3 separate regions of the Homo sapiens genome follow, and all the other regions are reported to be linked to region 2. The links are microRNA targets in miRTarBase. Many come from high-throughput screens and were not tested one by one. Region 2 holds a microRNA gene; each other region holds the end of a gene's coding sequence.

The links. The annotated mature microRNA hsa-miR-302e reads UAAGUGCUUCCAUGCUU and lies in region 2 at 4,502-4,518, opposite strand. An mRNA with a match to its seed (bases 2 to 7 or 8) in the 3' UTR can be bound and repressed. Matches are read on the target gene's strand: a 7mer-m8 pairs with bases 2 to 8, a 7mer-A1 pairs with bases 2 to 7 and ends in A, and an 8mer does both.
Region 1: the mRNA of MAP1B is a reported target of hsa-miR-302e. Seed matches in the 3' UTR shown: 7mer-A1 at 1,651-1,657 and 7mer-m8 at 4,747-4,753.
Region 3: the mRNA of RNF34 is a reported target of hsa-miR-302e. The part of its 3' UTR that is shown has no 7-base or 8-base seed match.

The regions. Positions count from the first base shown.
Region 1 is chr5:72,204,565-72,215,152 of GRCh38, forward strand. It overlaps MAP1B (microtubule associated protein 1B), which reads left to right. Exons shown (of 7, transcript NM_005909.5): 7 at 520-5,001. The coding sequence ends at 675. Among named protein-coding and RNA genes, the nearest start is that of MIR4803, 40 kb to the left of the region's middle.
Region 2 is chr11:7,228,126-7,239,288 of GRCh38, reverse strand. It overlaps MIR302E (microRNA 302e), which reads right to left and starts at 4,523; the gene lies at 4,452-4,523. It also overlaps a transcript of SYT9 not described here.
Region 3 is chr12:121,422,784-121,429,783 of GRCh38, forward strand. It overlaps RNF34 (ring finger protein 34), which reads left to right. Exons shown (of 6, transcript NM_025126.4): 6 at 603-1,565. The coding sequence ends at 793. It overlaps KDM2B (lysine demethylase 2B), which reads right to left. Exons shown (of 23, transcript NM_032590.5): 23 at 6,313-7,000. Among named protein-coding and RNA genes, the nearest start is that of MIR7107, 18 kb to the right of the region's middle. RefSeq lists an enhancer at 2,727-2,806.

The sequences.
Region 1 (10,588 bases), not on the chromosome of region 2:
GCTAGATGGAATTTATACTATTCAGGACATTACTTACCCACCCCATACCTCCATCCCCAACCACACACATAAAGTAAAGGTGCAGATCTTTGTTCTCAGGACAAAATGTTAGTTACTCACAATGAGTGGGCTTTTGAGGGCTTTGAAGTGCGCGATAAAATCCTTGGATTAAATATGCAATATCTTTTATGCAAAACTTACCAGTTGTGTTAAAGGAAATACAAAAAATTGTACCCTAACGGAAGCACTTCTCTTAACAGTAAAGAACTGAGAAACTGATTAATTGCTTTTTGGTTCCAGCCTTCAGTTTCCCTTAGAAACAATAGCTTTTCTTTGCAGCTTTATTCTGGTTCCTGGAAAATATACATTGAAAAATCCTTTGCATTTCTTGAGGAAAATAGAAAAGTTTTCTCTCATTTCCCTTCTTCTTCCAGTGGTCTAATACCTTGCTATTCAATTTTTTTCATATGGTTTCTGTTTCTGCCCTTAAATAGCTATTTTTTTTTTCTCTCCCTGCAGGTGACACTGATCCCAACTCATGACTCAGAAGTGATGAGGGAATGGTACCAGGAGACCCATGAGAAACAGCAAGATCTCAACATCATGGTTTTAGCAAGCAGCAGCACAGTGGTTATGCAAGATGAATCCTTCCCTGCATGCAAGATTGAACTGTAAAAACCAAGGCCAGCCACACCACAGGATCTGAACTTTGTTTCCAGAAATTCTTCAATTTGAAATCACCTTTTCTAAAAAGTCAATTCATCTAGTTAAGTCGCTGAACAATTACCTGCCAAATGCTATACTGTGTCATGGTGATGCAAGTCACTAAATTTCTCAGTTTTTGCTGATTGCTAAGGGAAATAACAGTATTTCCACAATAGGGTTCAAATTCCTGCAAAATTACCTACCCCAGTTCATCTCTGCTGAACATTTGGAAACCATGCACTAGCCAACCCAACTGACTTCTGCTAGGTAGAGGCATTTGTCTTAGAGAGAGAGAGAGCGCGGGAGAGAGTGAGAGAGAGTGAGAGCACAAAGATAACGCAGGAGAGAGAGAGAGAAAGAATGAGAAAGAAAAGGAATGCAAGAGAAGGAGATGTAATGACAGAGAGTTCTGGTGAGATACCCAGAGAGAAAAAGAGAGAGCAGGGTGGGGTAAGGAGGAGAAAATAAACCAACAATTAGGTCTGCATTTTCTCAGGCAGTAGGCATTCTTTAGTCTACATAGGCAAAGTTTTCCATTTTTGTCAGTCTGAGTCATCAAAAAGAGTCTTAATTTTCTAAAACAAGTTGGCTAGAAGAAAGTAAAAAGAACAACACTTGTTATGAGGGCATGTGATATTTTCACATCTTAATTAAGCTCCTTCAGTTTGAAGGCTGCACACTGACATAATGTAGTGAGTGTAGACTGGCCATGCAAGTGGTTTGGGCCCCATTCAGAACTCTCAGACTCTAAACACACAAGTAGATTGATCTAAGGCATGCTCCCAGCATTTGTCCACCCACTTAGTCCACTCTGAGTCGATTAACCTGCATGCAGCAACACCCAAGTCCACCCCAATTAACTGAAGCAAATACCAAAGCAGTTGGGAGTACATATGGTAGACAATTTGCCTTAGGAAGTGACTTGAATGTACAAAGATACTTGATGCACTTATTTTTTAATGTGAGACAGCAAGTTTATAAAACATCCATATAGGATTATAGATACTTAAAGGAACACGTGGGTGAGCGTGTGTGGGGGTACTAGAAGCTGATCTGATTGGTCCAACAGTTTGATGCTGAGTCATGCGTGTTGAATCCCACTTCAGTGCACCTGTGGCCTCTCAGTCAAACAAGTTGTGCCTTTCACAGCTTCTTTACTACTGCAAGTTCAAGACTGAAATGGCTTCTATGATCAGAACTGGGAAAACAGTGAATCTTATGGTGGAAGAGGTTCTCAGCAAGTGTACAGTATTTACCTTCCTTTGTCTTACATTGGCTTTTTAAATTTTCCATTAATTTCAACATAATTATGGGAACAAGTGTACAGAAGAATTTTTTTTTTAAGATATGTGAGAACTTTTCATAGATGAACTTTTTAACAAATGTTTTCATTTACAGGAAATTGCAAAGAAAATTCTCAAGTGATAGTCTTTTTTTTTAAGTGTTTCGTAAGACAAAAATTGAATAATGTTTTTTGAAGTTCTGGCAAGATTGAAGTCTGATATTGCAGTAATGATATTTATTAAAAACCCATAACTACCAGGAATAATGATACCTCCCACCCCTTGATTCCCATAACATAAAAGTGCTACTTGAGAGTGGGGGAGAATGGCATGGTAGGCTACTTTTCAGGGCCTTGACAAGTACATCACCCAGTGGTATCCTACATACTTCTTTCAAGATCTTCAACCATGAGGTAAAAGAGCCAAGTTCAAAGAACCCTAGCACAAATTTGCTTTGGGATTTTCTTTTCTGGAAAAAAAAAATAAAAGAAATAGTACATTGAAAACAAATGAATTCTCAACTCCTACGGTTCATGTAGAGTTTAGAGAAAATTTCCATCATTGTCATCATTGAACTGTGAACCTGGGAAGCCAGATCATGATTAACACTGACATCAAGTTTCAAGTTGCAGATCAATGCACCCAGTGTTCAGATGAGGCAAACTTCTCCGTGACAACTGTGCTGTGCTCTGTCACATTACATTTCCTGCAGACTCTAAGATCTACGGAGTAGAGAACAATGACCTCATTTTATTTTCTATGTTAGTTATTTATTTCAAAATTAACATTTTAGTTGATTTTTGTCTGATAAGTCTATGTTTTGCACTGCTAACTATGATGAGGGTTTAAAAAAATGCTTCTTCAGGGTCCTTTCACTGAGGACCTATGCAGTCTACTTAATGCTGTGAATTACATTTTTCAAATGTTTAATTTTTTAAAGAAAATTAATATTCTATTTTTGTTAGGCTTCTCTAGAAATGCAGCTTTTATTTATTACCCCATTTCTTTCAAGTCCTTGGAAAATAACATATTAAGGGTACAAGAAATTAACACATGATGGAAAAGTCATTGTGACGCCAATGAATTTCATTGAGTATAAACTCATCTACTTCAAATTTATTTTATAACACAACCTAAGATACTCAAGATAATTATTTAATGGTTAGCTCTTAAGTTGAATTGGTCTACATAATGCGTGGGAAGAAAACCAGATTTTTAGCCTTCTTGCCAAATCCAGACCTCTGGTTGATTTTTCTTTGACAGAAGATGCAAGTTATTTTCCAATTTCACAATTAAATGTATTTAACCTGAACATTATTTTGCTTTAAAAACTATAAACATTGTAGGAGAATTATAGCCAGTCTTCAGTTATAACCACTCCACCCTCCTCACTTTCTCTCTCTCTCTCTCTTTTTTTTTTTTTTTTTTTTTGCTATGGGATTTAATGGGAAAAATATGTAAAAACTGTCACTAGTCAGCTGGCTCTTTTTCCTATGAAATCTATCAGTACCTTTCTCCATCCGTTGTTCTCAATATGACCACAGAGCCTGAGTATACCAAGAAAACCAATATTCGCATTACAGGTTGCTCCTGTCCTTCCAGACACCTTTCCTGCCTGTGTGACTAACCTAATTTTGCTAGTTCCATAAATACACGATTAGTTTAGTAACAGCCATCACAATGTACCATGTACATTCATGGTGAGAGCTAAAGATCGACACAGACTTCTAGGAGCTTTGTTCATACTGATTACTTAATCCAATTGTATAGATTGAATATTTGAGTGGAAGGAATTTACACTCTGTTTAAATGATGGGATTCTATCGAGATAGCACTCATGATCATGACCTTTTTGGTAGTATTCTTAAACAAAATTCTACAGAGACTAAATGTTAGCGATGATCCTCCATTTTCAATTTTAACCAATTCTGTCCCCTTTCTCAAAACCCTGAGCCCTGTGCATGCTTTCTCAGTCTTGTGGTGGGACTGGATACAATGACTAACTTCCCCTCCTCCCCTCTTTAAACACCATTTTCCATGGAGTTCAAAAAAATTTTTTTTCTTAACGTTACATATCATAGTGAATGGTTTCCCCAGTGTATATGAATGTTTTAAGTGTCTCCAATAGCTTATGCAGTCTAGGAGCTTTCCAATACTCATTTAATTAAGATTTAATCATTTGCTAATGGAAATCTTACCACCTTTCATTTTCCCTCTGTTACCAAATTTCAGCTCTTAGGAGCTGCTCTACAATTCTGAATTTGCTTTTCTTGCCTCTCTTTAGTCACCTGTCACAGGAGGTTCCTGCTCAGTAATGATATTGTGAGTTAGGATAATAACTTTTTTTTTTTGTGCTTCAGATTTAGAAGAAAAGATCCTGTTTCCATTTGAAAGGAACTGTAAGCTTTTATCTTTTAACCAACTGAACAATACACCAAAAGCAGCCTAGGGATGAGCATTTCTTTGAAAGCAATTAGGTTATTCACCTGGTATTAAAACTATTTACTGTTAAAAAATCTGTGACTTCATGAAGTTGATTTTTAAAGGCAGCATCAAAAACTGAAAAGGAAGGGAAAAAATAGGCAGCTTCTCTGCACTTGTTTGGAGCTCCCCAAAACAGGAGCCATGGAGAAGTGGCATCAAGACCGGGCTGCCCTTTCGAGAACACCCTGTGGCAGTTCAGAGACACGCTTTTCCTACACTGCATGCAGCCCCTCTTTCCAGCACTGGAAAGAAGTGGTCTTGAGCCCAGCTGAGAAGCACTTCACACTCCTCTCTCTTGTTCTGAATGGTGTTTGTGTCAGTCTGCAGCTGTGTATGGTATTATGTCTTATAATCCTGCATCACTTCTATCCTATCCAGTCATATCTAATGTAGAAAATTAGTTTCCAGTGAAAGTAATATGTAGTGCTTTTATGATATTTGTGTGCAATATCCCCTCTTCCATTGAGGATATTTGATGTAAAGGAAAAAAAAAAACTCAGTTCCACAATAAAATACAAAAGTGGCAAAAGTTCATGTGTGTGCTGTGCTGTCTTTTGCTTTGTGTTCCTGAGTTGGGCTTTGCCACTCACGCAGAATGCTGGGCAGTCAGGGCATGACGGCAGGGGGTGACTACGTTCTTTTCAAGATGGGCTCCCTGGCTTTTGGCAAACTGCCGAAAGCATCTTGCTAATGCTTGCAACTGCTACCTCGTTAACTTTTATAGCCAAGCTCTAGAGGATGTGAGCGTGTAAGGACAGAAACTGGGAGGTGAAGGGAAGGAACAATTAAAATTATTGCTTAAAAAAAAGAAAAAAAAAAGGATAGCTGGGTGCAGTGCTACATGCCTGTGATCCCAGTACTTTGGGAGGCCAAGGTGGGAGAATCATTTGAGCCCGGAAGTTCAAGGCTGTAGTGAACCATGATTGTGCCACTGCACTCCAACCTGGGCAACAGAGAGAGACTCTGTCTCTAAAAAAAAAAAAAAAAAAAAAGAAAGAAAAGATAGACCAGACCAGAACCTGTCATATTCAGCAATTGTGCTCAGTACCTATCTTTTTCTTAGTTCCTTGCTCACTGTTACAGAATATCCTCTATCTAACATAATATGTTGTGGATTTGACTCACACCCAGGAACTAGCAGTTGTTGGGAAAAAGTGATTATATATGTAGCAAAGAATACCTAACAAGAGGAGGATTTCCTCCCTGTCATTCAAATGATTATTACACATTTACCCTGTACCTGGCAGTAGGTTATATTACAAGATATAACCTAACTGCTGCCCTAACTGATTGGGGGAAGACAGACCAGCAGAGGCAATGATACCACATCGTGATGGGGGCTCCTAAAATTCAAGAGCGAGCTTAGGTGACCATAGGAAAAGCACCGCAAATGATGTCTCGGCTGAGCTCTGGAGTGTGTGTGTGTGTGTGTGTGTGTGTGTGTGTGTGTGTGTGTGTGCATTGGTTGGACCAAAAGTAAATTCCAGGCAGAGACAAGAGCTCACACAGGGTCTCAGCAGAGAGCAGGATCAGCATATGTTAAGGAGCACAGACTGCTCACAATGGCAGCATGTAAATGGGGGAGGCCCTGGCACTTCAGTTTCCCACCATGTGGCCACAAAAAACATGCCCATAAGGTTCTTAATAGAGACCTCCAAGACTGGGCCCTGCCTGTCTGCAGAGATGGTCCTTTAGCCTCAAAAGACCCCAGCAGCCTGTCCTGAGTTATTATGATATCCCTCTGTGTGTCATATCCACTCCTTTTGATCTTAACATTTCCCCTCCAAACCATGGGGCTACATTGAATGGTCCTATCAGAAATCACTGCTTGCTAAGAGGGATTCTGAAATCCCTCCAGAAATTAAAGGGTTAAGCATGTGAGCACTCAGGGTGGGAAATCATCACTTACAGATTTTAATTTCATCTATCAGACTCAAATTAAATAGTAAATAAGTTGTTTTCTATTCCACTGCCAAATTGTTCAGTTCCAGGAAGCCTTCCTTCTGGCCTGAAGCCAGGGTGGCCAACTATCTTGGTTTGCTCAGGACTGCCCTGATTTCAGCACTGAAAGTCCTGTGTCCCAGAAAACCCCTCAGTCCCTGGGAACCAGTGAGGGCTAGTCACCCTACCTGAACCCTGCCCTGCTGTTTACATCCCCTTCTCCCCCCATCTAGGCACAATGGAGGGGGAAAAGTTGGCGGCAGCTTTCCTTCAGTTTCTTTTTTCCTATCTTCTGAGAAAATCAACAAAGGTCTGTTGAGGTCCTGTGATCATATTTTCTCTCTCTTCTTAATTGTACCGCTCATTCTGGATGATTTTCTATATCCCTACAATGCTTTTTTTAACACACTCCTGACTCATGAATTCTTGGTCCCTTGCATAATTCCAGAACTATTTCCTCTTTGATCTTGTATTGTATGCCTTGGAAATTCACCGGAGCCATATATGCAGTTTTGGTCACACCTAGTTCGTTTAATATGAGCAGTTCTTCTGGATACTTCTCCAGGGGTTACTGGCAATGTTTTCACAGATGGTGGAGCAGGGCTTCTGAGGTCTGCTTGATTCACAGGGAGATCTCGCCGTACACCAACAGACACAGCTCTATTTCATGGCTCAGATTGTCCCCACTAAAACCAGAAATGCATGCTGCTTTAATGCAGTCTCAGGAATTTAAATGCCATGTGTAAACTGATGATTTTTATAGTTATATCTGCAGCCTGTACATCATCCCTTACCTCCAAATTCATATATCCAGTGCCCATTAAAATCTCCATGTGGATATCCAATAGGAGTCTTTAAAATACCCTAAACCAAATGTAACATGTCCCCAAACAAACCCCTGATCTCCATTTGCAAACTGCTTCTCTCCTAGGCTTTTCTACCTCAGTAAATGGCAAATACATATTCTTGTTGTTCAGGCCAAAAATTTTGGCCCATCAGCAAATCAACTGGCCGGCAAGTACTGCTGGCTTGACCTTCAAAATATATCAGTCTGATACCTTCTCCTCACATTCACGGTTACTACCCTTGTCCAAGTCAATCATTTCTCTCCTGGTTTATTGCAGGAGCATCCTAATTGACCTTCCGGTTTCCTATCTTTGCCCTCCTAGCTTATTCTCCATGTTGCAGCTACAGTAGAGTAATCCTCTAAAAATGTTAAGTCAGATCATGCCACCCATGCTCAAAGCTCTTGAGTAAGTTCTCATCTTAGAGTAAAAGCCAATGTCTTTACTGATGGGCTAAGAAGGCTTACACAATTCATTCCTCCTCTACCCCTTCTCTCCGACTTCATTTCCCACTTCTTTCCACCTTACACATTCTGCTCCAGCCATACTGGCCTCCTTGCTATTCCTCAGGCATTCAGCCTTTCATCTCAAGGCCTTTATGCTATTTCCTTTGCTCAACATGCATTTTCTCCAGGTGATTCCACGGTTTTCAATCTCACCCATGTGGGTTTTTGTTCAAATGTCATTTTCTCAGGAAGGCCTTCCCTAACCACCTTATCTTAAGTTGCAATCTCCACCATTTACCTAGCACTCTCTTTTTCTCTACCTTCCTGGTCTCCATATGACTATTATTTTTGTGATCAAGGTTGGGGCAAAGCCCAGTGTGGTGGCTCACACCTGTAATCCCAGCACTTTGGGAGGCCAAGGCGGGTGGATCACTTGAGGTCAGGAGTTTGAGACCAGCCTCACCAACGTGGTGAAACCTCGTCTCTAGTGAAAATACAAAAATTAACCAGGCGTGGTGGTGCGTACCTGTAATCCCAGCCACTCAGGAGGCTGAGGCAGGAGAATCCAGCCTGGGTAACAGAGTGAGACTCTGTCTCAAAAAAAAAAAAAAAAAAAAAAAAGATGGGAACTAATGAGCCAGAGCCTGGGAAACACTCATACCCAGCAGTGGCCCAGCATGCTATCAATGGAGGACATTTGTAATGGGCATTAATGGTCTATTCTACCTACTATCATATGCATATTCACTTTGGAGGGTGTTTTAAGGATTAGAAGTTTGAACTCTGCAGAGATGAAGCATCATGGGAAATAAAAGCCAAAAAACCAAACAATTCTACCACTGAGGGCATCAGAGGATATAATACCCCTTTTATACATCTTCATCATAGTCCTTGATCCAGCATTTAAAATCCATGATGAAATTTATTTTCAGGTGCTTTTTACAAGAATAAACTTCTTGTTTTCTGAATATGTCCAGCTCAGATCTGGACTCTCTTTTGTACATAATAATCACACAGCTCAAGCAATGATTTTGTTTTAAACAAAGATCCTAGTGGTTACTGCCACAACCTCAGCAGCGTTGCCACCATCGTTTGTTTGGATTTCCCTGTTACCACACAGGTAATAACATCCTCAAAGCAGTATGCAGTATCAGCAAAAAGGCCAAATCAATGGGGAATAAGAGGTTATTTTCAAGCTAAGAGGCTGTTATTTAGAATAAAAGGAAATTTTGCTTTGTTGAAAAGCGCTCCTTTCCAACCATTTCCTAAAGCAAAATTTTAAAAATTGATCATTTTCAGAATTCGAAAAGCTCATGAAAATACAACCACACCACATTTTCTGCTTTGATGACTCACTAAAGTCAAAGCTCTCTGAGACCTTTTTCCACTTCATCTCTTTCTCACCTATGCGCAGGGTGCCAGCAGAATCACCTTCCACTGACTCACGCAAGGTCACTTCACAGCATCTACATTTTGGAACTCAAAAGTCCTACTCCAGTTACAACCAGACAGCAAAACCATACAAATCACCATTTACTCTTTTCCCTAATGGATCTTACTTAGGAAGAATAATGGCCTACTCTGCATCATTGCATATTTTATATTTATATTCAGAGTTAGACAAGAAACAGCTACTATTATTCTTCTAGCCTGAAATATCATTTGTGAATGAGCTATTTGCTACAAATATCATTGTTGGGTCTCATCTACATTCCCTGAAAAAGTCCTGTGAATGCTCCATCTGTAAACCCTAGGCCAGGGTTTCTAACGTCGGCACTACTAACATCTTGGACCAGATAGCTCCTTGTTGTGAGGGACTGTCCTGTGCACTGTAAGATGTTTAGCAGCATCCTTGACCTCTACGAACGAGATGCTAATAGCAGCCCCTCAAAATACCTTGACATTATCAAATGTCAGATGCTAATAGCAGCCTAATCAAAAATACATTGGCATTACCAAACGTCCCCTGGAAACAAAATCACTCTTGGTTGAGAACCACTGCCCTGGGCTTACTCCTGGTCATCTGCAGACAGTTCTCCACCAGTGGATGGTGTTTCTCTAACGACACCTTTCAACTGTGTGTTGACAGGTGCGAATGTGCCAGCCTCACTAGAATCTAAGTTCTTCCTGGTCTCTGCCCAAGGGTGTTTCCTGGTCATGGGAGTGTGATGGCGCTGCACTAGGAGTAGGCTATAGTGCTCCCAACCCATGAGGGAATAGACTGAATGGGCAAATACTTAGCTGCTTCCTTGCCTTTCAGAGGAACTGCTGAGGTGTGCTCTTCAGAGTCTCTCAGAGGGTCCACAGCAAGAATGAGCTGGTTTCCACAATCCACTCAATTATGCACCCTTTGTTGGCTCTCCTTTCTACCCTGTCTCAATTTCTCCTTCCCTCACCTGCTTTAGTAAGATCACCTCCAACTAATGCACCGGCACTCAATTTCTGTCTCCTGTCTTGCTTTAGGGGGAACCTAAACTGAGACAGTGATCTTCCGAGTTTGGGACTGCACTTTAGGAGTCAGATATGGGTTTGACCCTGGCTCTCCAATTCACAGAGGGAAACCCTGGCATTTAATCACTTCTCTAAGTCTTTGTTATCTTGTATATAGAAAGAGCTGTAATAATGGGCATATTCTTGTGGGTTAAATAAGATCATGCATACAAAAATTTAATATGGCACTTGGCTATAGATGGTCAATAAACATTGGCTTTTATTATTGGTCTATAAATGATAAGATTTGTGTTACAGCTTCATCACTTCCTAACTCCCTGCTTTGAGGCAGGTGTGATATACATATGTAGAAGAGAATTCTGATATGATACACCATGCTCACCCCCCTATTTTTTCCCCACAAACCTTCCTCCTGGTGTCAATTTTGGCTTAC
Region 2 (11,163 bases):
AGTGGAGCCAGAATCTTGGCGGTTCACCCCTGCAGTCCCCTTCTTCTGCACTTCCTGTTAGGGGAGCTACTTCATTCCATATTATTTAAGCTACTTTGAGGCAGTGTTTTCTGTTACTTGCCTTCAAAGGTTTTTATGTCAGTCTGGGTTCCTAGTTGCCAATAAGAGAGCTCACTAGATAGTTTAAACAAAATGTATGAAAGAATATCCTGGAGTAAATCAGGCTTGGGTGTCAGGTAGCCAGAAACAATATCCATGTTCTGTCAGCAGACAGCTCCAATGCTGACTCTACCACTCCCACCACTTCTGGGTGCAGGCACAGCCATCCACAGGGACAGAGATGGGCACAAGATTCCCCACTAGCAACTTTACCTCTGCCTCCTTTGAAAGCTAAATCTCCCTCCACCACCTTCGCCAGCATTTGTTCTCTGCATTACTGGCTTCTTCATATCATTCTTTCCCAAATTGAAGTCTCAGGCAGGAGGATCATGTTGACAAAGCTCAGGACTGCAAGAGAGGCTGAGTGTGGTAGCAGGGTTCACAAAGGGGATGCACTCATCATCTATTATTATGTAACAAATTACCCCCACAATGAACAACTTAAAACAGCACACATTTATCATTTCACAATATCTAAGTGTCAGAAATCCAGAAGCAGTTTAGGTGGGTGGTTCTGGTTCAGGGTCTGCCATGAGATTCTAGTCAACTTGCTGGCCAGAGCTGCATCATCTGAAGTCTTGACTGGGGCTGCTTTCAATAATGCCTACTGCTTGGCTACTGGCTGGAAGTCTCAGTTTCTCATCATGCAGCCCTCTCCACAAGGATACTGGGGTATTCTTAAGAAATAGCTGACTATTCCAGAGTGAGTGATGAGAGAGAGAAAAAAAGAAAAAAGCAAGAGAGGAAGCTCAAGACATAAGCCACTGTCTTTTATAACCTAATCTTAGAAGTGATATGCCATCACTTCTGCTGTGTTCTATTGGTTACACACACTAACCCTGGTGCTGTGTGGGAGGGAACCACTCAAGGGAGCAAATGCTAGGACGTGGGGATCACTAGCAGTTATCTTGGAGGCTGGTTTTCAAGTGGGAAATTTCTCCAAACATAGAAAGAGTGTATTAAAGAAGCCCGATGGCCAGAAAGCATGAAAAATATGTATTGAAGCAGGGCTTTCCAATATTTTTTACATTGTGACAGACACGGAAGATGGTGCTAATTTTTCAGCATTCTCTGGTTAAAGGATGAATCCTCCTATGGCCAGAACCGCCCCACAGCTTTGGCCAAACTCATTCTCTCCTGGTTACACCAAGGGCAGAGGGGAACAATATCTTTCACACCTATAACCTGTTGATGTGCTAAAACATCCTAACTGACGCACTTCCTTCTTCCAATATTGCCTCCTACCAATTCTTTCCCCTCAGAGCAGCCATGGCGATCTTTCAATTCATGAGTTTAATCACATTGACTTACTGCTTCAACCCCAAATGCTTCCAATAACACTGGAAATTAAGCCCAAACTCCTTTGTTTGATCCATAGTGCCAGCATAGCTGAGCTCCCTCTACCTTTCTGACATCAGTTTGTGCTACTCTCCCTCTTGCTCAGTTTGTCTCAGTCACATTGTTCTCTCTCTGTCCTCAAATGCAATCAGTTTGTTACTAACTCCCTGATGTTTCACTTGCTTCTTCCTCAACTTTAGGGACACCTTTTCTGCAGGCTCCTTCCTTTCCTTTGCATATTGGCCTATACATCACCTTTTCACAGAGCCTTCCATGTTGACCCTGTCTAAATGCTCTATTTCACATCAATATCCTTCATATCCCTTATCACTATCAGAAACTATCTTGCTCATTCCATTAAATCACAAATATTTATTGAACACCTGCTATATGTCAGAAACAGTTCAGGGTTCTGAGTATCTGTTTGCTTATTGGTTTTTTTTGTTTATTTGTTTTTGTTTTTGTTTTTGCTTACTCCCATCCCCCATTCCCTCTGACAACTAGTATGTTCACTCCCTGAGGCTAGGGACCTTGTCTGCCATGTTCATCACCAAGAATCCAGCATCTAAGACAGTGCCTGACACATAGGAGGTGTCCAGTGAATAACTGTTAAATGAAAGAAGGTGGATAGTGAAGGGCAACACTCAGATCCAGATGGGATAGGGTACTCATGAGAGCATGGGTCAAGAGCTTAGCAAACATGTAAGAACCATGCTGCTCTTTTCTTTTCTCTGGGCATAAAGTAGTTGCTCAGTAATTCAGCCAAGCAAGTTTGTAGACAACAACTTGCCCAGTATTTGACAAAGAGCAGTTTTGTTTTGTTTTGTTTTTAAAAATGCTTGTCTGATGATTGAGTGACCTGGTGTAATTTCAAGAAAAACCCTTAGGAGAAATATATCAAAACCTTTCAATGATTTTGTCTGCAAACATGAAGATTCAAAAGCACCTGAGGAGCCTAACCTTTTCCTGCTGGCTGAAATGAAAATGCATTACCCTTTTATGTAAAATTATAAAGCAACTGAGTTTAAAATGGAGAAGAAGACAGAAGGGCTTAGAAACAGGTCTATAATTTTACGCCAAGTTTAAAATATCTTACCTCGAATTTGTATCCAAGATTTAGGTCTTTACTACCTGTGCTATCTGGTGTAATGAATGGCGACCTTGGCCAAGAGGAATTCCCTGGACTGTTGTCTTTGATCCTTTCCGATCACTTAAGGCTGATGAGTTGAGCACCTCCTGGCTAAATATGGCCTTATCAGTCACTGTGCGCTCCTTAAATGTATAAGGTCAGGTTCTTACCTGTGGGGCATCACATCCCTGAAGGAAGGACAGACAGGCAGATGCCTAGTTAAAGCACAGAGCCATGTAAAAGTTTTTTATAAAATTATAAAACAATGCAAAGGGATGGAGAGAGTAATTCTCTCTAGAAGAACTGGTCTATTATTTGATCATGTGGCCATAAGAAATTTACTTACTATGTCTGGATAGCAGTATTTCAATGGCAAAATAGCATGTTTGACAAGGCAGGACACTTTTTGGGCTCTAATAGTCTAACGTTGAAGTTAGATTAGCTGGTTTCATATGTATTAGTCTCATCTTCCCTACTAGACTATCATCGGGTAGGGATAATATCTCAATCATCTCTCTATCCCAGGGCCCAGAGGGCACTGCCTGTGACTGTAGTAGGCATCCATTGAGTGCACATTGATTGGTTGACTAAAATTCATCTTTCTATCTTACTCTAATATCTTAGAATCTAGTAGAATTCAGCACTCCAAATTGATAGGCTTCAAACAATGGAGTTTAAAGGTATATATAAATGCCTGCAGAGAGCTATTTCTAGCCTAATGCCTTATTTTTGTGAATCTTGATGAAGGGCTCGAAGAGGGCTCTGCACCTCAATTTTACTTTGACAGAAATCTATCTGAAAAGTTTCCTCTTCTGAACTGATCTAAGCCCCTCACCCCTCCATGATCCTCCCTGAGTCTTAACACCTTAGACCTGTGAACATTAATGTAAATGTGTATCTTGAAGGTGTGTCTACATGTGAGAATTTTGTGTGTGTATGCATGCAAGTTGTCTGAGTCTCTCTGAGTGTGTGCTTGTGTGTTTTCTCCATTGAGAGCAAGTTGTCTATGCCCTGCAGAATTCCCAGCCCAACCTCAGAAACCAAAAGCCTTCCTCCAAGTTACAGAGTTTACGCCAGAGAACAAACATGGATGGAGCTCATGTTTCTTGCTTGTCAGTCCTAGGTCTTCATTCCTTATTCCTGGAGGAAGGAATCTATTCATGAAGGTTTAGATGGAGATAACCATGGAAAAGCTACCAGTCTCAGTGTTGTTGGGTTTTGTTTTTGTTTTTGTTTTTGAGTATTAAAAGATAGCAAGCAAGTTTGACTTTTTCTACTGAATAGATGATGTTCTGTCTGTCAGAAAGACTGGTGCCTGGAAAGTTTTTTGCAGACACTTGCTTTAAGTTTATGACTTGCTTTGCTCCCACAGGAGCAAGAAAATGAACCATTTGTTTTTCAAAACACACACACACATAGAACTATAAAATAAAAATTGATGGCCGAATAAGCTGCCCCCCACCCAAGTTTAATTCATACCTGTCTGAGTGTCTGTACAATTTAAGCACTAAGGTATAAGTGGGTCCAAGTCTAGGCTTCCAGAGACTATCCCATGAATATTAATATTAGTCTGGGATTTCCAGCGAACACAAAGTAGCCCAATGTTACACCACTAACACCGTTTCTGGGTCAGGATGACTCCTGAGGCAAAAGAAACTTCTATGCACTGGAGAAGCTTCAGGTTCCTTTTCTTGCCCCCCATCACCCCCACCTTCCCCCAGCACTTGCTGTTTTATTACAGAATTAGTGGGAAGGAGACCATTTGTGGAGCTGTTGCTGTTCTAAGCACTTTACAAATAATAACTCATTGATTCCTCAAAATAATTCTATAAGGTAGGTGCTATTACTACATCCATCTTACCAGTAAGGAAACTGAAGCATGGAAGCACTTACCCAAGGTGAAACAGCCAATAATTAGGAGAGCCAGGTTTCAAACCCAGGCAGTCTGCCTAGAGACTCTATTAACTGTGAAACCACACTATCTGATGGACCAAACCTCTGTGGCAGGCAGATTCCAGAAATGGACTTGTAATGTCAATATTAAATAAAATCACAGTTTTAAATAGAACAAAACTTTGGCAATTATGTATTTTAAGATTAATTAATTTTAAGGATTATAACAAGGCAAATATAAAAATGGAAAACATTGAGAACTTGTTGTAACAGCCCATGGACTATGATTTTTTTAAATGTACTAATAAGAGCAAGGAAACTTCAACGATTTCTCTTCTTTTATCCTCTCATCTTGATATCTCTGGATACAATGCTCCACCATCTGTCCATATATGCCTCAGCTATGTTGAATCCCAGGAATGGAATTCCTTAAAAGCATACATAAAAAGACCTCTGTAGTCTGTTTTGTGTGGTTGGAGGGGAGAGTGACTCCTCTGTATCCTCTGGTAGGTGAAAGCCCTGGACCGCGTAGCATCCTTTGTTAGTGATTTTACTTGAAATCTACCTTCAGGAGCTCTTTTAGGGCAGGCCTGGTGGTGACAAAGAAGACATTTATGCAGCCAAAAAACACATGAAGAAATGCTCATCATCACTGGCCATCAGAGAAATGCAAATCAAAACCACTATGAGATATCATCTCACACCAGTTAGAATGGCAATCATTAAAAAGTCAGGAAACAACAGGTGCTGGAGAGGATGTGGAGAAATAGGAACACTTTTACACTGTTGGTGGGACTGTAAACTAGTTCAACCATTGTGGAAGTCAGTGTGGCGATTCCTCAGGGATCTAGAACTAGAAATACCATTTGACCCAGCCATCCCATTACTGGGTATATACCCAAAGGACTATAAATCATGCTGCTATAAAGACACATGCACACGTATGTTTATTGCGGCACTATTCACAATAGCAAAGACTTGGAACCAACCCAAATGTCCAACAATGATAGACTGGATTAAGAAAATGTGGCACATATACACCATGGAATACTATGCAGCCATAAAAAATGATGAGTTCATGTCCTTTGTAGGGACATGGATGAAATTGGAAACCATCACTCTCAGTAAACTATCGCAAGAACAAAAAACCAAACACCGCATATTCTCACGCATAGGTGGGAATTGAACAATGAGATCACATGGACACAGGAAGGGGAATATCACACTCTGGGGACTGTGGTGGGGTCGGGGGAGGGATAGCATTGGGAGATATACCTAATGTTAGATGACACGTTAGTGGGTGCAGCGCACCAGCATGGCACATGTATACATATGTAACTAACCTGCACAATGTGCACATGTACCCTAAAACTTAGAGTATAATAAAAAAAAAAAAATTTTTACAACTGCACAAATTTTGATAAAAATGAGTTAAAAAAAAAAAAAAAAAAAAAAGAAATCTACCAGACTTTTTAACCAATATTCCTATGTAACTTTTTGCGTTTTCATGTTAGGTCATTGGGAAGTGAGGGAAGGCAAGTCAGAGTTTTCTAGTGAGGCTCTGCTGAGCTTCTGTGTTGTCTCTTCTAAGACATATTGCATATGTACCTTAAGAAATAAGTGAAATCATGAAAATGAATGTTTTGCTATAGTATCCTGTGGCATGTTGCTTTATACTGTGATGCATCCTTGAACATATATCATTGTATTTCTTACACTCTGACTCTATTAAATGTTTTATTCCATTTAGAATCCCAAACATAGTCTTTGCCCAAAGTTGTCAATTATCTGCAACATATACTTGATTATTTTTCCCATTGAATCAATTATCTACTGTTGCATAAGAAATTATCCCAAAACTTATCAACTTAAAATAACAAATATTTATTTTCTCACAGTGTCTGTAGATCAGGAATCCAAGTGTGGCTTAGCTGGGTACTTTTGGTTCAAAGTTTCTTAGGAAGTTGTAGATGAGCTATAAGCCAGGGCTGTGGTCTCATCTGAAGGCTTGTCTAGGGGAGAATTTCCCTTCCAAGCTCATTTATGTGATTGCTTGGATGTTTCCATTCCTCACAGGCTGTTGAATTGGGCCATTGGCTGGAGAGCTTCTCTAGCAGGCTATTGGATGGAGACCTTCTCTAGCAGGCCATTGGAGACCTTTTCCAGTTCCAAGTCAAGTGGGCCTCTACACTGGGAAGCTCGCAACATGGCACCTGGCTTTCCTATGTCCGAGCAAGTAAGAGAATGCCCCAGATGTCAAGAGAGATGGCATCCATAGTATTTTTGTAATCTAATCTTGGAAGTGACATCCCATCACCTCTGCTGTATTCTATTTGCTAAAATTGAATCATTAAATCTAGCCCATAACCAAGGGGAAGTGTTTACACGAAGGCATGGATATCTGGAAGTGGGGCTCTTTGGGTGCCATCTTAGAGGCTGCCCACCACATCCAGTTAGAACAGTCATCCCAACTGTGGGGATTATTGATATTCAAGCATTTATAATCTAGTACTCCCCAAACTCCCCCTCTTTCAAGTCTTATCCTTTGCATAATATGCAAATAAGATGGTTCAAGCAGCCACACCGCACACTGTGTGGAGCACACCTACCTCTACCACTGGTGTAGTACTTTAGATTTCCAGGGAGGGCTTACGTTCCTATGAGTTTCTCCTGAATCCTGCTTCACCCCTGTAACCTGCTCCTGATAGGTTTTCTTTGCTTCTGGTTCTATGTTACCTCTTGCTGTGGACTCTTTTCCTCTTCCTTTGTGGGACTTTCACAAATAACACTAGGTCATTTTAGTTAACAGATTTCCCCCGAAGGCTTGGAGATGATAGGAAGTAATTATAGTCAATAAAGGAAACACCCTCAAATTTAATAGAAGATATCACTATTCCTTGAAATGTACTTGTCCTTCCCCACAATTAGAAATTTCTCACTGCCTGGGACCATCCGTCTGTTTTCTGAGCATGGCTTCAGTGTAAACCTTTTCCACTTTCTACTCAAAGACCAGATATGCCTACATACTTAGGGACAATGAGAAAAGGCAACCTTGGCAAAGACACACAGTCCCTGCCATGCCTTTTCTTCAGAGTGATGGGTGCCTACTCACCTAATATTTACATAATCAAGTAGGACCATTCAAGTGTTGGTTAAGAGAATGTGCTTCAATGTGAATTTCTTTGTCCATCTAGACAAAGGCACATTTGGAAGCTTCTCTTTCTAAACATTTTTAAGGCTCTCTTTTTTCAGGCACTCAGTTATAAGAGTATGATCTTATTTAGAAAGAAGAAACTCCACTATTTATAGAAATATAAGGAAACAAACTTAGAAGCGAGACACAACCAACTGTTAGAGTAATTCCATCTGAGAAGTGAGTTTATTTAGAAGAAGCCCTATAGGCGGGGTCATAGAAGAACTATGTAGTGAGACAGATTTCTGCTTTATATAGTACACATATCTGTATATTTTAAACAATAAAATGTATTATTTTTTGTCATTGTCGTCAAAATTTAAGAATAAAGCATCCTGGCATTAAAGAAAAAGAAAGATCATGAACAAAGAAACAAAGGCCAGCTTCAAAATACTCTTCAGCAATGCCAAGTACTAGAAAATAATGGAACAATATATCACAGTTTTGATGGGAAAAGCTTATGGGAAGAATTTTGTCTTCAGCTGTTTTTCCACACCTGATGGCAACGGAAATAAATTCTCAGATATTCAATGGTTCAGCCGGTATACCACCCTCATATTCAGATGGAAGAAAATTTTTGTATATGCACTCCTATGTCTTATTTCAGCTAACCAGATAAAGACACAAAGAATAAAAAATATATAATTCAGAGTATAAAATTATTAAAGAACATAAATATCAATATAAGAGAGAATTCATTAACCAATCAAAAAGTATTTATTGAATACGAATAATGTATCAGGCATACTTCTAGGATCTTAGTAAATAAATCAGCAAATAAAACAAAGACCTGTGCTCTTAAAGAGCTTTCATCTTAGTTACATAGTGTGCTTGATTGGCCCATTAAAAAGAAAAAAGAAGGATAACCAATAAAGGGCAACCAGAGTGTAAGGAACTTGATGTCCAAGTTATAATTCCCAGAATGACATTTTAGAGATAGATATAAAAGTCTTTACTAAACCAATGAAAATCATACAGTAGTATATTACAAGATAATGTTTAGACTATATTGTGCAGATTTTATTCTTGGAATATAATATTCACTTATTAGTAGCACATTTATTAATATTGTCCATCAGTAATAGGTCAAAGAAAAAAACAACATAATCATCCGGCAGATGCTCTAAAATCATCTCATAAAATTTAATATCCATTCCTGGGAAAAGTCTGAAAAAATAAGCAAGAAAGGAAATTTCCTTAACATTAGGATGAATATCAAAATGTAGAGGCAACATTCTGAAAATTGAAATATCAGAAAAACTTCACTTAAAATTCAGAGACAAAAAAATTATCCTTAATGTCTTCATTATTCAACATTACCTTGTAAATGTGCAATGCAATAAAAGAGCTAAAGCTATTAAAGTAAGCAGAAAAATATTTTACAAATCATTAATTTACTGATCTAGAAGTCCCAAGATATTTTTTTAAAAAATTATTAGAGCTAATAAAAGAAGATAGGAAAATGTTCAGATGCAAGAACAAATATAAAATATTAATAGTTGTTGGTGAAATCAATAATTCAGTCAAAATTATGATGGTGAAATTATTTTATTAATGCCATCATAAATAATTAGGCAAATTTATAAATAACTCTGTGAAAAACAACTTAGAGAACTGTGTGTCATCTATATGAAAATAATTAGAAAACATATGGGGAGATATAATAGCATCATAAATGTAGAGATATACCATGTTTATGAATGGGAATGCTAAATATTATAAAAGAAATTATTTAATTCCTCTGAAATAATTTAAAGGTTTAATGTGACTCAAAGATTTTATTAAGATTATTCTTACTTGACAAAGTGAAAACATAGCTCATTTTAAAAAATATATAGTTTTGAATAGTGAAAAAGTTTCAAAAAGATAATATAAAGTAAGTTGGAAAGGGCAGTAAAGAGAGATTTGTCTTACAAGATAGCAAAACATACAATAAACTTTCAGCTATCAAGATGGTATGTATCTTGGGCAAGAATTGATCAATATAAACATTTAGAAACTGACTTTCATACATGCAAGAATTTAATATACAGTTAAATTTCCATCATAAATCAGTATGTAAAAAGAAGAGTATTCAATAAATAATGCTGGAACAATTGATTATGTACTTGGGGAAAAACAAAGAGAAATCAAAATGACTCAGTGCTATGCTTAAAATTAAGACAAAATCAAACTAAATCAAAGTACACTATTCTAGTAATGAAACTAGAATAAACTATAAATGGGCATTTTTTAGGCTCCAGGAAGGAGAAATTGTTTCTAAGGATGAATATATGGAAGAAATCACAAAGCAAAAATAATAAACAAAACAAAACCAGTAGCTTTAACTTCTTAAAAATCTAAAACCTGTTTCTCAAGAGTTATTATGAAAATAAATTCTAAATATTTGACAAACTGGGGAATTATTTGTAGACAAAGGGCTAATCTTCTTTAAATATTTTTAAAAATTGCTTTCAAATTATAAAGAGACACAGTACTATCTCAGTAGAAAATAGTGAATAAAGGACATGGATGGATAATTCACCAAAGAGGAAGCATAAGAAGCTTTTCCAAAAAATACAGAAAAAAAAGTTTGACCTTTTTAGTCATGAAACATGTGGGTTAGAATAACAATTAAAATGTTTCCTGAATTTAAATATAAAAAAAAGAAAAGCTATAATACTCAGTGAGGATTATACTAGTACTAGATACAATCTTGTCTGGAAAATAATTTTGGAAATATATGCCAAAGGAAGTAGTTATATATTAATATCCTTTGACTTAAATAATTCTTATGTTCTTAAAATAGCAGCTATTGTGGCTTGCGCCTGTAGTCCCAGCTACTCAGGAGGCTGAGGCAGGAGGATCACTTGATGCCAGGCATTCAAGTCTGCAGTGAGCTACAGACGTGCCACTGCACTCCAGCCTGGGCGACAGAGCAAGACTTTGTCTCTAGAATTAAAAAATCAAATAAAATAGCAGCTATTTGAAAAGTTTCATTGTCTAACAATAGGGAAGAATAGTTAAATGTTGATAGATTAATAATAATAAAGTTAAATGTTGATAGATTAAATGCAGATAAATAATATTGTATTTTTACCACAATTATAAATCATATTCTCAAATAAATTATTTAATAACCTCAAAAATATTCAAAATGTAAATGAAAAATTATTTATGTTACATAATCATATTTCTGTGTATCTATGCACACACACCTACAAATACCAATGCATGTGTATACAGAAAAATAACTAGAGGAAAATACTTAAAACCTAATTTTATCTTAATGAATGAATTATGGATGGCTTTTCATTTATTCTCTTTTTTGCAATTTTGAAAATACTATTGAAATAATTTGAAAATAATAAATTGAAAATAATATTGTATTTTTATAATAATTACAGAATTGTTGAAGAAAGCTAAGGGGATACTAGTAGAATACAGGAGATATTTGTTTATGTAGTCATCC
Region 3 (7,000 bases), not on the chromosome of region 2:
TAAAGGTGGGCCAAGAGCCAGGACGGCCCATCTCTTTCAAGTTAGACTTCAGCAGGGCCAGGAACACAGATGGCTTGAGATGATTCTAAGGCTAGGGAGGGAAGGATGCACAATTATTCCTAACTTTCCTAAGGGGGAACTAAGGCTCCTTTTCCTACTGAGATGAGGCTCCAGAGACTGTGGTGTTCCCAGGGCTACAAAGCTGGGGCAACTGAGTTAAATTCCAATAGCATCCTGACTCCAAAGCCCATCTACAGAAGACCAGCTGAGGGTTTCTTTTTCTAGTTACAGAAGTAATATATCCCTATCACAGATGTCTTGAATTAGACAAAGATATAAAATAGAAATACATAGCTAACATTTGTTGGGTACGTCAAGCATTTTATTCTTTACAAAACCCTGAGGTATAGCTTTTATCATTGCCATTTCTAGTGGAGAGAACCAAAGTGCAGAGAAGTTGGGATTATTTCTTGTACAACACTGGGGTGGCATTGGGCCTGCAGGGGTCATTCAGCAGGTGGCTGCTCAGCTTCGGACTGGGAGGGTGGCTGGCTGACTGGCCATGCCTGAAGCCGAGGCCTTAGCTCTCTGTTGCCTTTCAGATGGCGAGCGGCTGCAGCTGCAGGATGAGGAAGACGACAGCCTGTGTCGCATCTGCATGGATGCCGTCATCGACTGTGTCCTACTGGAGTGTGGGCACATGGTTACCTGCACCAAGTGCGGCAAGCGCATGAGTGAGTGTCCCATCTGCCGGCAGTATGTGGTGCGAGCCGTGCACGTGTTCAAGTCCTGAAACAGGCTCCCCTCACCAGGACAGTCACCCCCAAACTTGACCCCCAACATTTCAATGCACAGAAGGGACTGGAAAGTTATGTTCAAAGGCTGAAGCTATTTTAAAACATTATTTTGACTACTAAGTGGGGACAGAAAGATCCATCCTGAGTTGTGGAAACATTGGTCCATGCCGTGAGCCTGTCTGCCTGTGGACACGTGAGCTTCCCGGGCTCAGCTGGGCTTTATCACACATCCCGTGAACACTCATTGAAGTCAGCCTGTTTGCGCCATGTGGGCATCAGCCACTGCTGTCTTGGGAGGACACTTATCCTGTTCTCTTATTTCCCCTTCATCCTATTTTTAACTTAAACTGCTCAGATGTTTGAAACTTCTGTCCTCTTTGGATGAGATCAGTGTCCACAAGTGGCCGACATGGAACATGCTGAGCAGTGGCTCCTCTGAATGTTCACTTTATTAGTCATGTATATTTTAAATGCTAACATTTGATGAATGTAAGTTTCCACATTGTTGCTGTTTCTGCATTTAAACATAATTGGGAACAACTGACATTCTCTAGTCGACTGCCAGGGCCTTAGACTCCACATGTCCATTTTTGTTCAGGTATAGCTTTTTATAGCAAGGGCTGCATCTAGCTTCTTTTATTAGAAGTGTGTGTGCTAAATTCCTTATTAATGTGTAATCAGTTTACATTGTTTTGTATAGTGAAGGTGTATTTTCAGTGCTACCCGCTAGCTGATTTTAACTTTAGGAATAAAATTAGTTTTAAAAGCTTTTGTTTACATTGTCTTGGTCAGTTCCTAAATCAAGTGACCTGGCCTAGCACCCCTCTTCAGAAGAGATGGTGGGAGCACCTTCAAAGATGTCACATGGGGGCCGGGTGCGGTGGCTCACGCCTGTAATCCTAGGACCTTGTGAGGTTGAGGCTGGAGGAATGCTTGAGCTCACAAGTTCAAGACTAGCTTGGACAACATGGCGAAACCCTGTCTTTGGAAAAAATTAGCCAGGCGTGGTAGTCCCAGCTACTCAGGAGGCTGAGGTAGGAGGATGGCTTGAGCCTTGGGTGTGGAGGTTACAGTGAGCCAAGATCACACCACTGAAATCCAACTTGGGTAACAGAGCCAGACCTTGTCTCAAAAAAAAAAAAAAAGAAAAAAAAGAAAAAAACAATGCCACATGAGCAACAGTGCTTACATTTCCTGCTTGCTTATCAGTAAGGTTAACTGCTGATGTGCTGTTTCTTGTGTCCAGGTATTGCGCTAGGTGCTGTAGTTGCCTCTGCAGTCCTCAAAGCAACTTTCTGAAATAAACATTGCTTTGCTTCTCTAACCTCTGAGAAGTTAGACTTGTCTAAAACCTCATGGTTAAAAAGTGGCTATGCAGAATTTGAACCTAGCTCTGATGCCAGAGTTGCTCTTAACCCTTCCAGTACCACATAAGAAATGAGAAACTTGGGCCAGGTGTGGTGGCTCATGCCTGTAATCCTAGCACTTTGGGAGGCTGAGGCGGGTGGATCATGAGGTCAAGAGTTCGAGACCAGCCTGGTCAACATGGTGAAACTGTCTCAACTAAAAATACGAAAATTAGCTGGGCATGGTGGCGGGTCCCTGTAATCCCAACTACTCAGGAGGCTGAGGCAGGAGAATCGCCTGAAACTGGAAGGCGGAGGTTGCAGTGAGCCAAGATCGTGCCATTGCACTCCAGGCTGGGCGACGAGCGAAACTCCGTCTCAAAAAAAAAAAAAAAAAAAGAGGAACTTGAGCTATTATGCAAAAATGTTGTGAAATCTCTTTTAGGTCCAACTTGACTTGACTCAGGATGGTTGAGTTGAGACCAACTGTCATTTCAGTGCAGCTGGGAGTGGCCACTTCTCAGAGTCTGTTATCTCCTGACTGTGCAGTGAGTAACACATATGGCCTTGGGTGCTCAGAATTTATTAGTCCATCAACAGAGCTGAAAATACCTGTGAACACCAGGAGGCAGATGCCCCTGTGCTTTGGGCAGAAAGTTTGTGTGGCTAATAGTAAAGAAAAAAATTTTCTGCTTTTGAAGATCAAAGCATGTAAATCAAGGCCTCCCACTTGTTTGTCTGCAACCACAATTGGTAGTAACTGGCTTGAGCAGGTCATGGTTTCCCTTTAGAAGCAGCATAAGTTGCCAGAGTTTTGTGGGCACTTGTGCTTTTTGTCTAAACTTTTTTTTTTTTTTTGAGACAGAGTCTCGCTCTGTTGCCCAGGCCGGAGTGCAGTGGCGTGATCTCAGCTCACTGCAAATTCCACCTCCTGGGTTCATGCCATTCTCCTGCCTCAGCCTCCCAAGTAGCTGGGACTACAGGCACCCGCCACCACGCCCGGCTAATTTTTCTGTATATTTAGTAGAGACGGGGTTTCACTGTGTTAGCCAGGATAGTCTCAATCTCCTGACCTCATGATCCACCCGCCTCTTCCTCCCAAAGTAATCTTTTGATGAGACTCTGGAAATCTTAACATTTCCTCCAAATTGGTAACTTGGTGGTGGCAAGTCTTTAAATCCAGGCCATAGAAGCTAAGCAGTAGGTGCTGGTTTTGTCTAAACTTAAATTCAAAAATTCAGATTTATACAGTCTTAGTTTAAAGCAGTTTAATGTTTACTCTTAGATTTGTGTATTAAGTTTTAGTGGCTTCTTTATAGAAAGAGTACAAAATGCTTGGTGGATTTTTTAGATAGTAGTTTGAAGTAACCCTGGTTTATTAGCCAGATAATAGAAATGTCAGACAACAGAAATGTTTAGTGTAACAGGCTTGATACTTGGAAATTGGCTTGTTTGGCAGAGGGCAAGCATTTCCCCCTGGAATTTGAATTTTTAAACTGGCATGCCTTTCTACCCCCTCCCCCCCCTTTTTTTTTTAAAGACAGAGTCTTGCTGTTGCCCACCCAGGCAGAGTACAGTGGCATGATCATAGCTCACTACAGTCTTAACTTCTGGGCTCAAGCAGCCCTCCCGCCTCAGCCTCCCCAGGAGCTGGCATATAATGCATACCACCATGCCTGGATAATTTTAAACAATTTTTTTTTTTTTTTTTTTTTTTTAGACAGAGTCTTGCTCTGTTGCCCAGGCTGAAGTTCAATGGTGCAATCTTGGCTTATCGCAACCTCCGCTTCCCAGGTTCAAGTGATTCTTCTGCCTTTTCCTCCTGAGTAGCTGGGATCACAGGTGCATACTACACTCCCAGCTAATTTTGTATTTTTAATAGAGACAGGGTTTTACCATGTTGGCCAGGCTGGTCTCAAACTCCTGACCTCGGGTGATTCGCCCGCCTCGGCCTCTCAAAGTGCTGGGGTTACAGGTATGAGCCACTGCACCCAGCCCCATGCTGCTTTAAGTAAATTTTTTAAATAGGTCATGTCATATGGATAAGTCTGCAGTGGAATACAGTGAAGTCTCTTTATCCCATCTTCACAATATGAAAGGATGTCATTTGAGGTGCCATGGTGTCTTCCTTTGTAAACATCAGATTCCCTAGAGGAAGGGACAGAGCCTCTTTTCTAGGTTACTAAGCTGTGATTTGACACAGCAAACATTCCCTTGGGTTTATGGTCCTTTCATTACTTCATCAGACATGGCGTGTAGGCTCAGAGTAGTTGCTTGTAGCATTTAGCCTCGGCTGGCCTCATCTTTGGCTCATTTTAAAAATAAAAGAGGCTGGGGACGGTGGCTCATCCCTGTAATCCCAGCACTTTAGGAGGCTGAGACCAGCAGATCACCTGAGGTCAGGAGTTCGAGACCAGCCTGGCCAACATGGTGGGTGAAACCCTATCTCTACTAAAAATACAAAAGTTAACTGGGCATGGTGGCAGGCACCTGTAGTCCCAACTACTGGGGAGGCTGAGGCAGGAGAATTGCTTGAACCTGGGAGGCAGAGGTTGCAGTGAGCTGAGATCATACCACTGCACTCCAGCCTGGACAAGAGCGAGACTCTGTCTCAAAATAAATAAAATAAAATAGGTCTGTACAGAGACCATGGATTTGTACTGAAGTACAATCTTACTGGATTGTTCAGTACTCTTGGGAGAGTTTATGGCCACTGTGTTATACAATGGCCTGTCCTGAAACTACAGATCTGCTGTGTCTCTGCTGTATTGCACATCCATGTGGTGGCTTGGATCCCCAGCCCTGGCAGCCCCTCCCTAGCAGACCTGTGTGCTCCAGGAACCCTTAGAGGAGAAACACTGCCTTCTAACCCTGAGCCCTACTTCCCTTAACTAGTCCCAGTTGCAGCCACAAATCTGTCTTGGCTACTAATGAGTGACTACGGGATCCGTTCACCAGAGAACAATGATTAACCTTAAAGCAATTCTTAAGGAAGAGGATGACTTTACTGGATATCAGGGTAGCTATATTATTAATGTTTGGAGGTTTGGAGAACTCAGGCTGTCAAGAAAACAAATATTACCATTCATGAGGACACTGCATTTTAAACAATCAATCAGGCTTACAAAAGAAAGTCACATTTTTATAAACCATGGAGTGAAGTGGATTCCTGAGTTAAATTCTGGGGTACAGTGGCTTCAAGTGTCTTTAGATTGAGTCAACAAGGGTCTGTGGATTTAAATTAACAGGAGACATGTATCTAGATGAGATCTTTCTCTTTTTTTTTTGAAATGCGGTCTCGCGGTCGCCAGGCTGGAGTATAATGGCGCAATCTCAGCTCACTGCAACCTCCGTGTCCTGGGTTCAAGCGATTCTCCTGTCTCAGCCTCCTGAGTAGCTGGGACTACAGGCATGCACCACCACTCCTGGCTAATTTTTGTATTTTTAGTAGAGATGGGGTTTCACCATATTGTGGTCAGGCTGGTCTTGAACTCCTGACCTCAGGTGATCCCTCCCAAAGTGCTGGATCCACTCCACGTGGCCTTGTCTCATTTTAATTAAAACTGTTTTGCCATAGTAAAAATAAAAGGGACAAATAGAAAACTCAGCCATCAGCAAGAAAAGGCTTCTTCCACAGGGGCAACATCGTACATTGCTCTTATCAATCACTGAGGAAGGAGGTTGGTTACTTTCTCCATCTTCAGATTCACTAGAGCAGTTGTTTCTGTATGTGAATATGACATCGCCAGCAGGGTCCTGTCTTTAAAAAAAATTCCGTAATCTAAAATTACTTCTCACTGGTTTCTGCATCTGCCACTTGGGGAAGCCACCTCATGACCAAGTGTTTCCTACAGCCACCATGGCCCAAGGCTACCTGTACAGGATGCAGCCTCCTGCAGTTGCTCCCACTGTCTCCCAAATCTGGCGAACTTTTAGGCAATGGTAATGGCAAGTAGCCATGGAATTAATTCTGTGTGGTAAGAGGCACACAGACAGATGATGAGCAGCTCTTCTCCTTAAAGAAGTCTGTGTCTAATTCCTACGCGTGGCCGTTGTCAGAGTATAGCTCTTTCCCGTTACCTTTACTAGCCAGAAACAGCTTGCTTGCTTTCTGAAGAAAGAGAAATGACGCACCACAGGGTACATCAGATGAATCAGAAATTACATTGTTTGGACTTCAAAACAGTGTTTACTGACTCTGGGCTTAAACTTCTAGTCCACTCCTAGAACAGAAACCCTCAAAGTTCAAGAGTGGTTTTTTTTGTACAATTGTTTATACAAATTCAACAAAGGTAAAATCGCATCAGGGAAGGTCTAGGAAACACCACCTTACAACAATGGCACTTATAAATGCAGAACTTTACAACTAGGAAATAGCCATGTTACAAACCTAAATGAGAACTCAACTCACACTTCAGAGGAGAGAAGCAAAAGCAAAAGAAAGGCTATGTGGGAGCATTTATTCTACGTCTTGACTCACTGTATAAATTAGATCTATGTAAGTACAAGAGCTCATGCTGGAGCAGAACCTCCTGAGTGCAAAGGCTGAAGTCGAAATTTTAAAATTTGAGAAAAGTGAATTCTCTACAGAGGAAACTTGGCAGAGTATCTTACTTTGACTATAATTTACATTTATCCACAACATGCTCATGTAACTCTTGAGGTACAAAGCAGACTCTCAACTTCCAGTTAAACATGCTTTTAAGTGGAAGGTCTTAGCCTACTTTGTTAGATCTGGGCACATTTGTAGATGGGTTGTGTCGATGAAGTACACGTTAAATTCTCTCCTACCTTAAGGAAATCAGGAAAATTGGCAATCTCAAAACAATAAAAACACTGGTATGCATTCAAACCTTG